2 separate regions of the Homo sapiens genome follow, and region 2 is linked to region 1. The links come from fine-mapping of genetic effects on gene expression. A gene starts in region 1. The other region holds a variant in brackets. All regions are shown on one strand. Distances are from middle to middle.

The links. PIP is the estimated chance that this variant, and not a neighbour inherited with it, causes the effect.
Region 2: its variant is the best candidate, but not a certain one, in a credible set for the expression of ARAP1 in whole blood (INTERVAL, PIP 0.85).

The regions. Positions count from the first base shown.
Region 1 is chr11:72,748,280-72,756,599 of GRCh38, reverse strand. ARAP1 (ArfGAP with RhoGAP domain, ankyrin repeat and PH domain 1) reads left to right here and starts at 4,192. Exons shown (of 35, transcript NM_001040118.3): 1 at 4,192-4,272. It overlaps STARD10 (StAR related lipid transfer domain containing 10), which reads left to right. Exons shown (of 7, transcript NM_006645.3): 6 at 847-899; 7 at 1,458-1,871. The coding sequence ends at 1,703. RefSeq lists enhancers at 3,552-3,781, 4,392-4,511, 7,171-7,330 and a silencer at 4,052-4,341.
Region 2 is chr11:72,677,870-72,686,127 of GRCh38, reverse strand. ARAP1 (ArfGAP with RhoGAP domain, ankyrin repeat and PH domain 1) reads left to right here. Exons shown (of 35, transcript NM_001040118.3): 34 at 1-86; 35 at 447-1,059. The coding sequence ends at 464. Among named protein-coding and RNA genes, the nearest start is that of PDE2A, 7.6 kb to the right of the region's middle. RefSeq lists enhancers at 835-1,394, 4,863-5,688. The variant A/G (reference allele first, on the strand shown) is at 3,229.

The sequences.
Region 1 (8,320 bases):
GAAGCCTCCCCTCCTCGCCCCTCCAGGGGTGCTGTGGGTGTCACCTCCTGATCCCTGACACTCAGGGGAGTCACTGGCTCCCTGTTCTGTAGTCCATTCCCCTCTAGTAGAACAGTCGGCTCCTGTTGGGCCCCCAGTGAGTTCCTCTCTGGGTCCCCAGGGCTGGCCCAGGGTGGGTGTCACAGTGAACATGGAGTGAGTGAGTGAGTGAGTGAGTGAATGACTAGAGGATGGGGAAGCCTTGAGCATCCTTGCCTGGAAATGCTTCAAGCCCCAGAGCGCACAGTGGTCCAGGCCTAGCACTCCCCCGGCACCTCATTGTGTTGGGTGTCAGAGGTGGAGTGGACACTTGGGAATGAGATAGGGTGGAGAGCTGGGCAGTGGATTCCAGGTCAGGCCAGGCTGGGGTGCTCAGCCAGAGGCCTGTGTGGTCAGGGGAGGACTTGGAAGGACAGGCAGGGGAGGGGCTGAGCGTCAGGGGCATTCCTGGGAGGGAGGTTAGGTTGAGAAGGGATGTCAGTGTGATTGAGTGAGGCAGCAGGTGCAGCAGGGTGGGTCAGAGTTTCCACCCATGTATAGCCTGTGCTTACCTAGGACCCTGTGGTTTTCTTCCACGTAATCTTTGAGGCTGGGCAGAGGGAAAGTGGGGGACAGAGCTAAGCCTGAGGACTTCGGTCTGAGGTGGAAGGGAGTGAGGGTAAAGGCTTGTAGGACTTGCCTCACACACCTCCTCCTCATGGGGAAGACAGTGGCCTCCCTGGAAGCTCTGGGCAGAGGGTGGGGCTTTTGTCAGGGGCGGAGGGGCTGGGTCCCTGAGGCTGCTTCCTCCCTTCCCTGCCCTCACAGGCTCCTTACCCAAGTGGGTGGTGAATAAATCTTCTCAGTTCCTGGCTCCCAAGGTGAGTGGCCTTGGGATTTTGGGGAGGGGTGTTGAAGACTGGAAAGAGGACTATGGAATGAGGTGGGTGGAGTCAAGCCTGGAGCCTGAGGGCCAGGCGTGGTGGCTCATGCCTGTAATCCCAGCACTTTGGGAGGCCTTGGCAGGTGGATTACCTGAGGTCGGGAGTTCAAGACCAGCCTGGCCAACATGGTGAAACCCTGTCTCTACTAAAAATACAAAAATTAGCTGAGTGTGATGGTGGGTGCCTGTAATCCCAGCTACTCGGGAGGCTAAGGCAGGAGAATCACTTGAACCTGGAAGGCAGAGGTTGCAGTGAGCCGATATCATGCCACTGCACTCCAGCCTGGGCCACACAGTGAGATTCCGTCTCAAAAAAAAAAAAAAAAAAAAAAGAATGGAGAATGGAGCCTAGGGCCCAGGGAGGGCAAGTAGGGCTGAGGAGTGAAGTTTTGAAAGGGAGCCAGTCAGGATGCTGGGGGCTGAGCCGCTGGAGGGGGGTGTGGAGAAGACCTGCCCCCTAGCCACCCCCTGACCCGGCGGGGCGGCGGGCCCACAGGCCATGAAGAAGATGTACAAGGCGTGCCTCAAGTACCCCGAGTGGAAACAGAAGCACCTGCCTCACTTCAAGCCGTGGCTGCACCCGGAGCAGAGCCCGTTGCCGAGCCTGGCGCTGTCGGAGCTGTCGGTGCAGCATGCGGACTCACTGGAGAACATCGACGAGAGCGCGGTGGCCGAGAGCAGAGAGGAGCGGATGGGCGGCGCGGGCGGCGAGGGCAGCGACGACGACACCTCGCTCACCTGAGCGCCGCACCGCTTCAGGGACGGAGACAGGACCGGGCGAGCCCTGGGGCGGCGGCCGCTCCTGCACTTTCTCCCCTCCCCCACCCGGCACCTGGTGGCACCGGGCCAGGCCCAGGCGGGTGCTGCAGCCTGGCTGGACAGAGCCCCAATAAACGATCCCACAGCCTCAGCCGGCTCATCACTGTGCCTGCTTCCCACCTGCCTCATGGCCGCTGCCGCGGTCCCCTGCGTCTGCCCTTAATTTTGTTAAGGTTGTTGATCATCCGGCCGTTGATCCTTCCAGCATCTCCTCATTTCCCATTGTGTAGCGGGGAGGAGACGGGGTTTATCACTGCCCCCCTTCTGTCCATACTCTGTTCCATTCTCTGCCCGTATCTATCCAGCTGTCCTTGTTGAGCGGTCATTTTGGCATTCACGCCAGGCTATTTGCTTTCTTTTTCACTGCTTTAAGGCAGCGGTCCCCAACCTTTTTGGCACCAGGGACTGGTTTTGTGCAAGACAAATTTTCCATGGATCAGGATTGGGGAAGGATTGGTTTTGGGATGATTCAAGTGCATCACATTTATCATTAGATTTTGATAAGGAGCGCACAACCTAGATCCCTCGCATGCGCAGTTCACAATAGGGTTCTCCCTCCTATGAGAATCCAATGCTGCTGCAGATCTGACAGGAGGCGGTAATGCTAGCTCAGCCTCTGCTCACTTCCTGCTGTGCAGCCTGGTTCCTAACAGGTTCCTGACAGGACCAGTACCAGTCTGTGGCCCAGGGGTTGGGGACCTCTGCTCTAAGGGAAGGAGCAGGCCTTGACAGAGACCCTGGGTCAGGAGTCAGAGGGTGAGGTTCTACTCTGTGTCCTTCGGCCCAAGGCCCTTTGGGTCCAACCTATGGACTGGGGTCTGACACTCCTGTCATCCCAGAAGGGAGGTGGAGGGGTCCGTGGGTCTCAAGCCACAGGGCTGTGGGTCTCAGAGCTGAGGCTGGGGCAGCATACCCTGGAGGGAGGTCAAGGGTGCAGGTGAGGGGCCTCAGATTCCAGTGCAGTTGGTGGGGACCAGGCTTGGTGATTCACGCCCTCCCTAGGTCATTTTGAAGACCTCAGGACTGTGTTAACAGAAATGGTAGGGTCCCCAGACCCCCTATCCCCTTGCCAGTGGTCAGATGCCAGCCTTCTCACCCTGTGCTGCACCTCGCTGGTCTGAAGTCTAGAGGGACGCCTGGGCCTCCCCTGTGATCTGTGGCCCCCAGGTGCCCTCTGCTGCCCAAGGGACACCCCTGCTGCCAGGACCAGAGGAGGGGCCTATGCTCTGCTCCTCTGCAGTGTTTTTGACCCCATATGAACTTGGGGCCCGGAAGTTCTCCGCAAGGTCTGGCCCTGTTCTCCCCTCCCGGAAAGCTCCTTTGCCTTAGCCCTACCACCAGAAGACACGGTCTACTCAGTCAACTCTTTCCCAGAGGGACAGGGTGAATGGCCAGTGGGGGGCAGGCAGGAGATTCTAGAACTCATAAAAATGGGTTGCTTCCCAGCTTTGCCCAACACTGGCTTTGTAACTTTGGGCAAGCCCTCAGACTTCTTGGAGCCTTATTTCCTAACCCATAACCTGGGATGATAATTTTTGCCATCAAGCAGAATGTAAGGATTGAGATAAAAGGAATAAATTGCCCAGCACTGGGACTAGCATGCAGTAGGTGCTCCAATTAATGACACTTTCCTCTTCTCAGGGGGTAAACCCTCATCCCCCGCAATGTGAGATCTGTTCTTCCAAATATACCCTTTGTGCATATAAAGAAATTGAAGCCCAGGGAAGGTCTCTGGCGTGGCTGGCCCCGGAGGTGTTCTGGACACAGGACCCAGAAATGTCTGCCAAGCTTGGTACCCTCATCTGTGTATGTGCTGGGAGGATGGGTGGGAATCTCCTGTTCTCTAGGTGTGGGTGCTGGAACCTCAGGCTGCAGCCTTCCGCTGAGGGATCCTTGGGAGGTGTGGCTGGGTGGGTAGCTTCCCCACAACCCTGCCTGTGGGCACCCAGGGAGGGAAGTGAGATACCCTTGAAGAATGTGGTGGAGGAAGGATTTCCTAGAGGAGGTGGTCAGGCACCACTGACGGCCTTCAACTGCCTCCTATCCCCCTGGGGGTGTGGCCCTCTTGTGGGTGGGGTGTATGTCAGGGCAGACTCACCAGAAGAGGGGTGGCGAGAGCAGGGAGACTCAGGGAGAGGTGGACTCAGCGGGCGAGGTGGCGGGGGTTAGACCTGAGCCTCAGGAGACAGTCGGAAGACCCGCAAGCAGCTAGAGGGGCAGGAGAGAGACACAGACCGACGGGTCCGGCGGGCGGGCCAGGCCAACCAACTCCAGGACCGTGACTAGGCGGGGGGAGGGGCCGATGAGGGGGCGGGGCCCTGCCCTGCCCTGCCCCAGCCCCACCTTCCCCTCCCCGGGAGTCACGTGGGGCGGGCGGAAGCGCCCGGGGGGGTGGGCGCGCCCGGCCCCTTGCTGCAATTTGGCGGTGGCGGTGTAAGTCGGTGGCGGCGCCGGTACGCCTGGTCCCCGCGTGGAGTCTTTACTCAAAACAGGTCAGTGCGGCTGCCGGAGCCTCCCCGTCTGCAGGCCCCTCGCCACATTGGCCTGCAGTTTCCCCATTCTGCAGAAAGGAACGCCGAGGCCGCGCGCTGCTTCTGCTTCCCCGGGTCATCTTGTCTGTTTACCTTTTTGGGCGTGATGGGGGGGTCGCCTCTTGAGGATAAGCCAGCGGGCCAGAGACGGTAGGGAAGGGGGGTGAACCAGCGGGACCCGGGGCTTCCAGCCCGTAGCCCTTTGGCGTGAAGGGTCTCTGGAGTCAGCCGCCCTCGGGCGCCTTGGGGTTCCCATCTGTGAAGTGAAGGCTCCCACCTCGTTGGCCGCTGAGACCTTTACATTTCTGGAGATCTGTACGACCCTATGCCCTGGGCCTGGGGCTCCAGTGACCTTGGGCAGGCTACTTCCGGTCTCTGCATCTCAATTCCCCACCAGTAAATGGGGCATGGCTTCCCCAGAGCCCCTACCTGGCCCAGTTGCTGGTGAAAGAAAGTATGTGCTCAGGGAATGGGGTCACGCTGGGAGTGGGGTGGTTGGGCCTGGAGAGAGCAGGCTTAGGGTGCAGCCTGGGGGCAGGGGATGGGTGTTTGGTGCAGGGCCGGCGGGGAGGGGGGGAATCTGGCCAGAAGCCATCACGCTGTGGTTTCTGCTATATACCGTCCCTTCCCCCACATCCCATATCCTGGGGAGCCTTCCCTGATCCCAGATAGGTGGGAGGGGGGTGCTTCAGGGCCAGATACCTGGGGGTACTCGGAAGGATTTGACTCTTTGGTGGGTCCCAGGGTCCCAGACTGAGGCACTCATGATACCTGTTCGCGGAGAGTCCCCAGAGGCCAGGCTGGGAGAGACTGCCCAGCAAGATCATCACAGGGTAGAAGGAGCCCAGCAGAGCCTTGAAGACAGGTGTGGACAGGTGCAGGCCCCAGGGGAGGGGATGACTGGAATGGGCTTGGCAGTTAAGTGGCAATTTACAAGGATAAGGACCCTCCAAAGGCGAGGGCGTAGCTTGTGCAAAGTCAGGAATTTGGATGGTGTGTCTGAGGAATGGCAGAAAGGTGGGTGTGGCTGGCAGAGGTGTAGAGAGAACTCATCCTGTGTCCCATTCCTGGCTGGGGATTGTCAGGACTGGGCCTGGGGACCTTGCCTCCCCATTGGCTACTTGCATATTGGAGTAGTTTAGGAAGGGGGTGTCCCAGGCAGAGTACCGGTGACTGATGAGGTGGAGGGGGCAGAGGCCACCAGAGCCCTGATGGCCCCCAGGTTTTGTTTTGCATTCAAGCCTCCTACTCAACCCCAGCTTTATACCCCCACCACCTGGGCTCCAGCCATGCTTCACACATCCAGCCTCAGCTTTTTGTACAGATTGTTAATCCTCCTCCCAACCCTCTAGAAGCTTCCTCCCCATTCAAATCCCCAGGTCCTTTGGGACTTCAGGTTTCAGAGATGGGCTGCTGTTGCCCCTCCTTCCTGCCCAGCCTTCAGTCTTGTGTAATGGCACAGCTTAGGAAGGGTCTCCTTGGAGCTCTGTGGGGATGGGGCCTGCAGAGCCATGGGGATCATGGGACCTGGGGCCCCGAGTCCTTGTGCAGCCACCAATCACTATGTGACTCTACAAGTCCCCAAATTCCTCAGAGCCTCCATTTCCCCATCTGCAGGATGGAGTGATCAGCCCTGGCCTCATGCCCCAAAGAGAGACGGTGCTGGGGCAATAGTCAGGCCTATCTGCTAAGATGCTGGGGCAATAGGCCTATCTGCTAAGTCCTGTCTCCAGCATTGAGAGTTTGAATGAAAGAAAGAGAGAACCCAGGGGAAGGGGTCAGTTTAGAGGGGTTGGGGGGGTGTCTGAGAGTATCGGGGGCTAGTGGTGGACCAGGCCTAGGGCATCGGCTGGAGGTGGGGAGTCCCTTCCATTTTCCGGAGCCCTCTCTCCTTCCCACCCAACTCTCCCTTGGCTGAGCTCAAAGCCACCCGCCACTGCCCAAACAAGTGGCCTCTGTTCCCAGGGTAGGGGGAGGGGAGGCAGGCCCTGGGCTCCAGGCCCGCCTGTCCAGCGCTGACCCTGGCCCCCCGCCCCTCACTCTAGGTCTTAACCCTTGGGGGCCTGGACCGGGCCCTGGGCTCCTTGAGGGCTGGTGATTCTTGTTCACCAGCTGTCCCCTCTACCCCGCTTCAGGCTCCCAAGGGTTCTGTCACATCAGGAGGGGATGCAGTAGGAAATGGGGAAGGAAGGAGGGAACAAGGGTGGGGGACAGGCTGGAGCAGATATGGCCATGGACACTTAGAGACCATTTGGCCTAAAAGCTTCTTTCACAGATGGGGAAACTGAGGCCAAGAGCTAGAGATGAGGGTAGGATCACACAGAGACCCCTGGTGGGGGTCAGGACAGGTTCTGTCTCCTAGTCTGGCCTCTCTGGGGGAAAGGGGAGAGAGGGAGAGGGAACTTTTTTTTTTTTTTTGAGACGGAGTCTTGCTCTGTTGCCCAGGCTGGAGTGCAGTGGCACAATCTTGGCTCCACCTTCTGGGTTCATGCCATTCTCCTGCCTCAGCCTCCTGAGTAGCTGGGACTACAGGCGCCCGCCACCACACCTGGCTAATTTTTGTATTTTTAGTAGAGACGGGGTTTCACCTTGTTAGCCAGGATGGTCTCAATCTCCTGACCTCGTGATCTGCCCGCCTCAGCCTCCCAAACTGCTGGGGTTACAGGTGTGAGCCACCACTCCCGGCTGGGAGAGGGAACATTCTTTGTTGAGTACCTGCTGTGTGCTGGACACTGCACATTTGTCATCTAATGATTTACATAATTGCATAAGAGCATAAGACGACCATCACCCTCCAATATCATAGTGGAAGTAACAGCCTTAGAGAAAGCTGAGTAATAACATCAGTGAGAATGAGGTCAGCAAACATGCCTATAGCACTGTTGTAAAGTTTTATCCATATTAACCAATTCCACCCTGCCAATAACCCAAGAAATTAGGTGACATTCTACAGATAAGGAAACTGAGGCACAGAGAGGCTAAGTAACTTGTGTAAGAATACATTGGGAGGGTGGTAGAGAGACAGGGTCAGGACCCAGGTGTTCATTGCCTCCTTTGTCTGACTTCACTTTGATCTTACTCTTTGAGCACCTCCCAGGGCTGAGTGAGGTGCTTTCCCCGGGTGGTGACCGAGGCAGCCTTGAACAGTGTGTGACCCCAGCTAAGCTGACCCAGTCCCCGCTCTGGAGCAGAGTCCAGTCCCTCGGGCAGCTCTTCTCATTTCTTTCTCTGGTCTTGGGCAGGTTAGAGTCAGCACCCTCCACAGCCCTGTGCAGAGAGGTGTTATGTTTTAGAAAGGAGTTCTGTGCTAAGGGTGGCCACTCCAGGGTTCTGAACAGCATGAGGATTTGGTGGGTGGGGAGACATCCCCATCCAATGTGCATGCCCCACAAAACTCAGAGGCTGCCGCTGAATCAACCCCAGTGTCCCCAGCTCTGATCAGAGATAACATTTTTTCCACCTTCCCCTACCCCTGGCCAGGCCCCCAGACTGTATGTGCATTCCAACCAGGGATCTGAGGAGGACAGTCCCACCTGGAGGCAGATGACCCCAGATGTGAAAGATGGTGGGGGGCAATGCATGGATTGTGTTCCACATGGTCTTCCTGTGGAATGTCTCTTTTTCTCATCCTTGGGCCGTAGTACAGAGGGGAAGAGCCTGTCCCATAGTTAGGTTATCTGTCCTAGGCCACTGGGACAGTCAAAGAGTGGCTGGGAGGGGACGTGGAGTTAAGTGACCAGTTCAATAACAAATCATTTTTTTTTTTTTTGAGATGGAGTCTTGCTCTGTAGCCCAGGCTCAAGTGTGGTGGCATGATCTCGGCTCACTGCAACCTCCGCCTCCCGGGTTCAAGCGATTCTCCTGCCTCAGCCTCCCGAGTAGCTGGGATTACAGGCACGCGCCACCATACCCAGCTAATTTTTGTATTTTTAGTAGAGACGGGGTTTCACCATGTTGGCCAGGATGATCTTGAACTCCTGACCTCGTGATCCGCCCGCCTTGGCCTCCC
Region 2 (8,258 bases), 70 kb after region 1:
TGGGTAGTGTGTCACTGATCCCCCTTCGAGGTAGTGAAAATGAAATGCGCCGGAGTGTGGCTGCCTTCACCGCGGACCCTCTGTCTGTGAGTGGCTCTCCATGCCTTTGGGCAGGGGGCTGGGGGCCTGGCTGGGTGCCTGCCTTCTACTCCACAGTAGATGATTGCCCTGATTGCCCTCCCCGATTGCCCTCCGGCCCCCTCCCTCCAGCCTTGGTGGGGGCCCTCATAGGCCTCTTTGGTTCACACCATTCAAAGGAGCCCCTTCTGCCTGGCCCTGGAAGCTGGGAGTCCCCTCTGCCTGGCCCTGGGAGCTGGGAGCCTGGCTGATTGGAGTGCTCCCCGGCTGGCAGTGGAGAGTGGCTGCAGCAGCTGCAGCAGCTTCAGCGGGGCGCCAGCCCCTCTGGGCCTTCACAAAATACCTGTGGGTCTCTTGCCTTCCTGCAGCTTCTGCGCAACGTCTGAGCACAGGAGCCCATCCTTGGCTCTAGGATTCCGCCGCTGGAAGCCTTCTGTTCAGACACCCCTTATGCTCCAAGGCCTGATGTGAGCCAGCGGGGGGTGCATGGGAAACTGCACCCCACAACCCACATCCTCCATCCTGACTGCAGCATGGGGTTCCCCGGCAGGGGTGGGAGGCAGCAGGGGTCAGCCTGGGCAGGAACCTCTCCCAACTCTGTCCAGGTGTTCAGACCTCTTGGCCCAACCTGCTCACCCCACCGGGTTCACTGTCCTTGTGGGGCTGGAGAGATGGGCATAAGTCAGGAACTTGGGAGGACCACCACCCTTTCAGAGGCGTGAGGCCCTGGGGCCCTGCCGGAAGGGAGCCCCCTGCTCCTCCCAACAAACTCCAGAACAGCAGAAAGCGGGTGCTGTAGAGGAGCACTCAGCTCACGGGGAGGGAGCTCTTGGCTGAGCTTCTACAGGGCTGAGAGCTGCGCTTTGGGGACTTCAGCCTTCCTTCCAGTCTGGGCTGAGTGGGGGGTCCAGACTACCTGATGCCCCTTCCCCAATTTGGGGACTTTTTGATAATATAAATATATCTGTATATTTTACCCTATGGTGCTGAGGCCTGTGATTGGCTAAGGGGATTGGGCGTCCTGGGGTAGGAGGGGACAGGAGGTCGGGAAGCCCAGGGGTGAGTGCCTAGTGCCTGAAGCTGAGAACCTAGGCCTTGCTTTCTCCAGGCCCTGAGCTATTCAGACGACCCCCTTCCCCAAGCAGAGCCCTGGCTTGACTCCATGCCTTCCCCATTGTACTATCCTGCAGCCAGGCTGGGAATGCCGGTCCTTTCCTGGCCAGCACTGACCCTGGCTGGACACAAGCCCCTGTCCTGCTGCAGTCCGAGTCTGAGTCCCAGCTGGGGCCTGGGTGTGGTGTGTCAGTGACTCAGGCCTGGCAGCCCTGCAGCAGCCCCCTGCTGGAGACACAAGGTCAGAGCCACAGGAGCCTGAGGAAATTGAGAAGAAGCACCTTTGGGTCACCTGTGGCCCCAGTGCCTACCCCTCCAGAGGTGGGGCCTGCCATGCACCAGGGGGCTGCCCTCACTGGGCACTGCCTGGCCATCTCCACTAAGAAGATGAGGCCCTGGCCTGCAGAGGAAATAATGAGTTGCTCAGAGATGGGTTTGGGACTCCCTGGGGAGGTGCCAGACACCACATTCCCGCCTCTGCCTAGAGCCTCATTACCACCCGCTCTTCGGGGGCTCAGTGGGCGGACAGGCTGACCTCCATCCTTAGCCTCAGCCAGTGGGGCTGGGCAGAGTGGGTGGGGATGGGCCATGTGACCTCCGACTCAGGCATCCAGCTCAGTGGGGAGCCTGGGTCCAGCGGAAGACTTGGGGAGCTGGACTCCAGGTTCCCTCTCGCTGTCTCAGGAAGGGGAGGTATATGGCAGGAGACTGGAACCGGTTCCCTGAGTCCTACTGACCTATTTCACAGGCTGGGGCTAAGCCCCTTGAGTCTCCCACCTCCTGTGGGTCGCTCTGGCCAGATCCACAGGTCGAATGTCTGACCCTTCTGCCTCCAGCCAGGACAGGTTGGACCCCCTTATCCAAGTGCTGAGGGGCTGGAATCCGCTCCTGGATCTGACCTTGCACTGCCCAGCCAGCCCTGAGGCCCACCTGAGTGGGTGAGACTGGAGGCGCCCCCTGCTCTGCTAAGGCCACTGCCCCAGCTCAGCGTGCTGGCTGCAGTCCTGCACTAGGCCACAAGGCGGCAGCCATGGACCACTCATCATTGCTGGAATCAAAGCAGGGTCTGGAGGATGCCTGAGTGGTGGTCCTGGCCCAGACCTTTCTCTGCTGGGGTGTGAAGCGGGACCCAGTTCTGCCTTTGGCCTGCAGGCTGGTGACATTCTGGAAGGCAGCACCATACAGGAATGTGCATTGGAGTCCTGGGCTCTGGGAACCAGGAAGAGGAGGGAACAGCCTTCTACCAAGTACCTGCTGTGAATCGGCCCCTGTGCCCCCTGCACTGTCTGCTCTTGGCAAGGGGGAGCTAGGCCCAGAGAAGGGAGGCAACTTTCCCAAGGTCACACCATGCTCGTGAAGCAGGCCTGAGGTCCATTTCCCCTGCCCTACTTTGGTGGGGTCTCCCTCTTTGACTCCCCTCCTGATTCCAACCCTTTTCTCCTCTTAGAAATGGCCTGAGGCAGGGGGTCTGAACTGTCAGGAGTTAGTGATGGCTTAAAGTGATTTCCCTCTGGTAAGGGGTAGGGGTGACATCCAAACAGGAGCCTCAGGGCCTCAGCCGGAATGAAATATGCCTGTGACAACAGTGTTGGATGGGTTAGGGGCAGGAGGCTCTGCTGGTCCTTGTCGCAAGGATTCCTAAAAATGGGGCCTGTTGGGACCCTGGATGGTTTGCTCATTCACATATTATTTGAAGTTGGGTTGCCATGGATGAGTTGAAGACCCCAGACCTGGACCTGCAGAGGGGCCAGGAGCAGCTCTTGGAAAGGGAGGGGCTTCCTGGACAAGGAAGTGCTCCTGAGCCAGCTTTGAAGACCGGAGGCCTTGCCAGGTGTGGTTGGGGTAGAGGTTGAAATACTGAAATATTGGGGGAGGAGGACAGGGCTTCAAGGACCAACCCAAATCCAGGCCTAGCCCCTGGGGAATACGGGGAGCCCTGGGAAAGAAGGCCGAGGCACGTCAGAGCCTGGATGGTGAGGGCACTGCAGGTGAAGGGGAGGCTGGGGGGCAGAGGGGAGAGGGGCAGGGAGGTGGGGT[A/G]GGATGTCTGCCTCTCTCCTGCCTCCTTCCAGCACAACCTTCCTACCCTGCAGAGTTCTGAGGAGTCCTGGGGCTTCTGGAGAAGGAAATCAGTGGGACAGGGAAGGGCAAGAGCTGGGGCTTCTTTCCTGGCCTCATGCTCTGGTGGCCTCCAAGCCACCTGCCCACAGCCCGCTGTCTTGGAAAGCACGCGTGTGGGTGCCAGTGCTCCTGTTTACAAGCTGTGTGACTTTGCCTGAGTTACTTAGGTCTCTGATCCTCAATGTTGTCATCTGTACTTTGCGGGTATTAATAGTAGCTACCTCCTAGTGGTTTGGGCAATTAAATGAGCTAGTAAGTGTGAAGTGCCTAGCATTGCCCCTTGCTAATCCCCTTCCCACTGCACTGTCTGCAGTTTCTGAGAAGGTATCATGGCATATTCTAGTCCCAATATATTTGCACTCAACAAGCACTTATTGAACACCAACTGTATGCAGAGCGTTACTGAACACTGAGGGGGAGCAGATGAGTGAGTGGTGTGGAGGAAGGTAGAGACCTCCTGGTAGGGGATATTATCAGGAAAGACTGGAGGAGGTGAGTCTGAAAGGAGAGGCAGTTCTCCACAGGTGGAGGAGAGGAAGTGGTCTGAGCACAAGACAAGGGGATGTGACCCTGCTGTGGTCACTACCTGCTGTGGCTGGGACACAGTGCCCTACAGCACCCTAGGGCCTATCCCCCTTGCGCCTGCCTCTGAGATATGACCACATCCCAGTCCAGTGGGCTCCTTGGGATCATCCCCCATCAGAATAAGGAACAGTTCCTATTCTCTTAGCCAGCTCTGTGACCTAAGTGACCCTGACCCTGCTCTGGGGACTGTCTCTCACATAAGTGCAGTGGCCTGAACCTCCCAGCCCTTCCTCCACTACGACACCTCCTTCAGGAAGCTCTTCTGGGTTGCTCTCCCATCCCACTGTGCCTACTTAGGGTATGCGTATGTGCCCAGGTCACCACACCTAGTCAGGGACTCACCTAGGGAAGAGCAGTCGGGGACAGTTTCCCTGGTCAGCCAGGGTTGGCCCAGCCCTAGCATGTCCCTTCTCCTACACCACTTCCAGCCTGTGGAAATTTCCATACTTTCTCTGCCCTGGTTACAGCTCCTACTGCTGTATTTATCACCCTGGAGACACAGTGGCACAGGCGCACACATGCCACACACACTCAGGCCTGCACACACGTGCCTGCACACCTCAGCCTGCTTCTCCAGATCTGCGAGTGCATGCTGCGCGCACACACACACACTCGGCACGTGGATGAGCACACACACACGGCACGTGGATGAACACCCACCCACACACAGCTCTCTAGGAAAATTGCTCCCCTTCCCTCCTGCTCCTCCTCCACCCTGTCCTCCCACCACCACCCACTTCCAAATGCTGAGACCAAAGAGATGGGCTGGACGGTGCCTCTCACCACTTGTCAGCCTGGGACGCCCTCCTCCCTTTGTGACTAGCATGCCCTCCTCCCCCTGCCCGTCTGCCTCCCCAGCTCTCTCTGCCTCCCTGTCGCCCTGCCACCTCCCTGCGTTCCTGTGTATCTGCCCTCCACACAAGTCACTCTGAGGCCTCTCTTTGTTACTCTTGACTCTGAAGTGGAAACTGCTCCTCCCAGCTCTCCTGAGAGGCTCAGGATGGGGACCTGACCTCATAGGGCTGATGGAGGCATAGGGACAAGTGAAAGGGACCCCAGGTCCCGAATCTCCTCAGCTCCTGTCACCTTCAGTCCCTCCTATTGGGTTAGGGGAGGGCTGTGTGCCTGGCACCATGGAGACCAGTGTCATGGCAACACAGTTCGGGTGGGCACAGCTTCCTCCTCCTGGGGTGTGGGGTCCATAAGAGGAGGTGCCGAGGAGGTGGGCCTTGTGCTGGTGCCCACCATGGCTGCCTCCAGCTCACCATTCCCAGGACAGCCCACCCCCATCCCCCCAGCCAACTTTGCTTGCCACTGCAGCTTCCAGTGCCACAAGTCACTGATCCCATTTGGGAAATCCTCTCTCAAACACCAGCTCCAGAGCTGGGCGCCAGAGAGGGCAGGGGCTTGCCCAGGGTCACACAGCAAGTCTGGCCAAGCTCCTGACTCTCAGACCTGTTTTCTCCTCCGGTCTCCCACCTTCCACCCAGAAAGGGGACTGGGGGCAGAGGGGTCAGTCCAACCTCAGTTCCCACCACGATCTTCAGCCAGCCCTTAGAGTTGGCAGTGGGAGTGAAGATGCAAGTGATAGTGCCGAGAAACCATCATGGGGCGCCCACCACCTGCTGTGCCAAGGCTTTGCATGTGTCATCCCATTTTATTCCAAGACCCAGGAGGAAGATGACTGGTAAGTGGAGTAGCTGGGACAGGAACACAGGTCCCTCTCAGATGGGGCAGGTGAGTCAAGGCTCGTGTGTATTGCTGTCTCCATCAGGCGCTCTTTTAAAAGAATGGCAAAGCTTTTAATCCCATCTTTATTACCGGTAAGAGTGTAGGGGGAGGATCTGGGGCATAGCCTGGGTCTGGCCTTAGGGTTTCTAGAAACCAGGGGATATTTTTCTAAGAAGATAGAGAATAGAGCTTTCCTAGTGTGGTTAGACCTAGGGAAGACCTTTCTTGCAGTGCAGCAATGCAGACCGACTTCCAATCCCTAGGTCAAGCTGGAGTCTAGGGACAGAGGGGAGGAGACCCCTGCCTCCTGTGCCCAGCCTCAACTTGTCTCCTGACCTTCATGGAGTCACGTTGCAGCTGCCTCCCTCCTGGCTTATGTAATAATTCAAATATAGCAGCTGCCTTTATCCCACTGAGTCACACCCCCTGCATCCCCCCTCAGGTGCGGGGAGTTATGGGGGAAGAGGTGGTTCAGGGCTGAGTGGGAGGTTCGGGGCCTCCTGGCAAGGAAGATCCCTAGTGTGCTGGATTGGAGGGTGGTGGTGGTGAGGGGGCTGGTGCTGAGGCCCCAAGAAGAGCAGAGCCTTCGCCAGAATATGAAGCCACAGGGGCCACTTCTGCCCTGACCCATCCCTGCTGGAATTCCACATTCCTGGGGGCCCTCCCCAGAGTCACAAGCTATATGTACAGCCTTCTCTTGTGGGCTGCTGTCTCAGTTGGAGGAGGAAGGAGAGGTGGAAGAGTATGAAGAGGGGGAAGTAGTCCGGTGGGGCAATGGCCACCGTCTTTGGTCCTAGGCTCAGCCTCGCCCTTCACTCACTGGGTTACCTGGGCACCCCTCTGACCTCAGTTTTCCCATCTGCACAGTGAAGGATTAGATTAACTGGCTCTAGCGTCTCATTCTCTCTGATTTATAACCCTGGAGATGATCTCAACCTGAGGCTGAAGGCACTTCCGAGTGTCTGGCCCAGCCGCGTTCCAGGCTGACTTCCCTCCCTCTTTTCTCTGCCATCCCTCCTAGACCAATGCAGCCACCCCCACCCACAAGACAAAAGAGGCAGGAGAGGGCCCTGGACTCAGCTGGGGCTGGGCGGCTTCTCCCTTCCCTGAACTCGCCATCTGTTCCAGCCCCCCAGCCCCCTGCCTAGCAGCCATGGGTAGGTCACTGCCCTCACCTGGGGTCACCCCTTCCTCCCCGGAGAGCTCTGACAGATATCCTGGAACCTGAAGTGGATCCTTCATGCCCCATCCTGAATCCCAAAGCCACCTTCCTGAGGTGTTGAAGAAGCTGCTCCACCTTGGAACTACTATAGGGGCTGTGGTGGCCTTTCATTCCTTTATCAGCAAAAGCTTTTGTCACTTGTGTGGTGGGGGACATGCTTAGTGTGAGAATGCAGAGACCCATGCCAGGCCCTACCCAAGGACATGGTGCTCCTTCAGCCATTGTCATCAGAGCCACAGAGGGGAGCTTCCTGGCAGAGGAGGAGTGGGGAGAAGCTGTGGAATGGCTCCTTGAGCTCCCCACTCCACCCCTTCCCCATGCCTGGGCTCCCATTGCAAAGACCCAGATGTGGGCTTATCCTGTCCCCCAGCCAGAGGGAGTCACCCAGGGGTGTTCAGGCCAACCCTTTGTGAAATCCATGTTCCACCAGTTACCAGCCTTTCTCCGGAGAGCTGAGGGCTGTCTCACACTGGGTAGTCTCAGCCTGCCCTGGGGTTGGGGGGGTGCTCACAGAGCAGTAAGCGTCACTGCCTGCATCCCCACACACCTGCATTATCTTGTCTGCAAGACACGTGTGCCCCTGAGCTGAGCTCTGTTGTGCACCACCCGATTTCCGTCGGCCTCCTTTCTGACTTTTCTCCATCAACATTTCCTGCTTGGGCCTGTTGCGGGCTACCCAAAGGCTGTGGACTGGGGCCGAGGTACATAGGACTTTGGCTTGTCTTTTGAGCTAACAGGATCCTGTAGAAGAAATGAGATGAGCCTGAGAGGGGGTCGGGGGGTGAGACATTAGGGAAGGGAGAGGCCACCAAGGGTCTCTAGCCCAGAATCCAATGCCCCTTCCTGCCTACCTGTCCTTGTGGGTGGGAGGCAGGGTGTGTGCTGACTGGCCCAGCAATGGTGGGCTAGGATTTGGGATAGGCAGAGAAAAGGAAGAGGAGGGGGAAGTCGGCCTGGGAGGAGAAACACTGTACAAAGTCGAGGAGGAGAGAACCAGAGTGTGCTTAGGGACCAGACCTGGCCCCACCTGGAGCAGAGGATGGTGAGGTCAGTCAGGGCTGGATCACAAGGGACCTCAAATGCCAGGCTGAGGAGCTTGGCCTTTATCCTGAGGGCACTGGGGAGCCCTGCAAAGGTTTTGAGAGGGAATTCCATTACCAGATAGATGTCTTTGGAAGCCGCCTCTAGGTGCAAGGAGGAGGTGGAGTAGAGAGGTTGACCTGGGGTAAGGGTTGGAGCATGACCAGGGGAGGGGGAAGGAAGCAGGGGGTGGGGATGGAGGGAGTGGATGGATCTAAGAGAATCTACTGTCCTTTGGAACAAACGATACAGGAAGTGTAGGAGAGGGATGGGGCAAGGCGACTTTGAAGTGTCCAGCTCAGAGATTGGAAGTTTGCTGATGCCTTTGGGA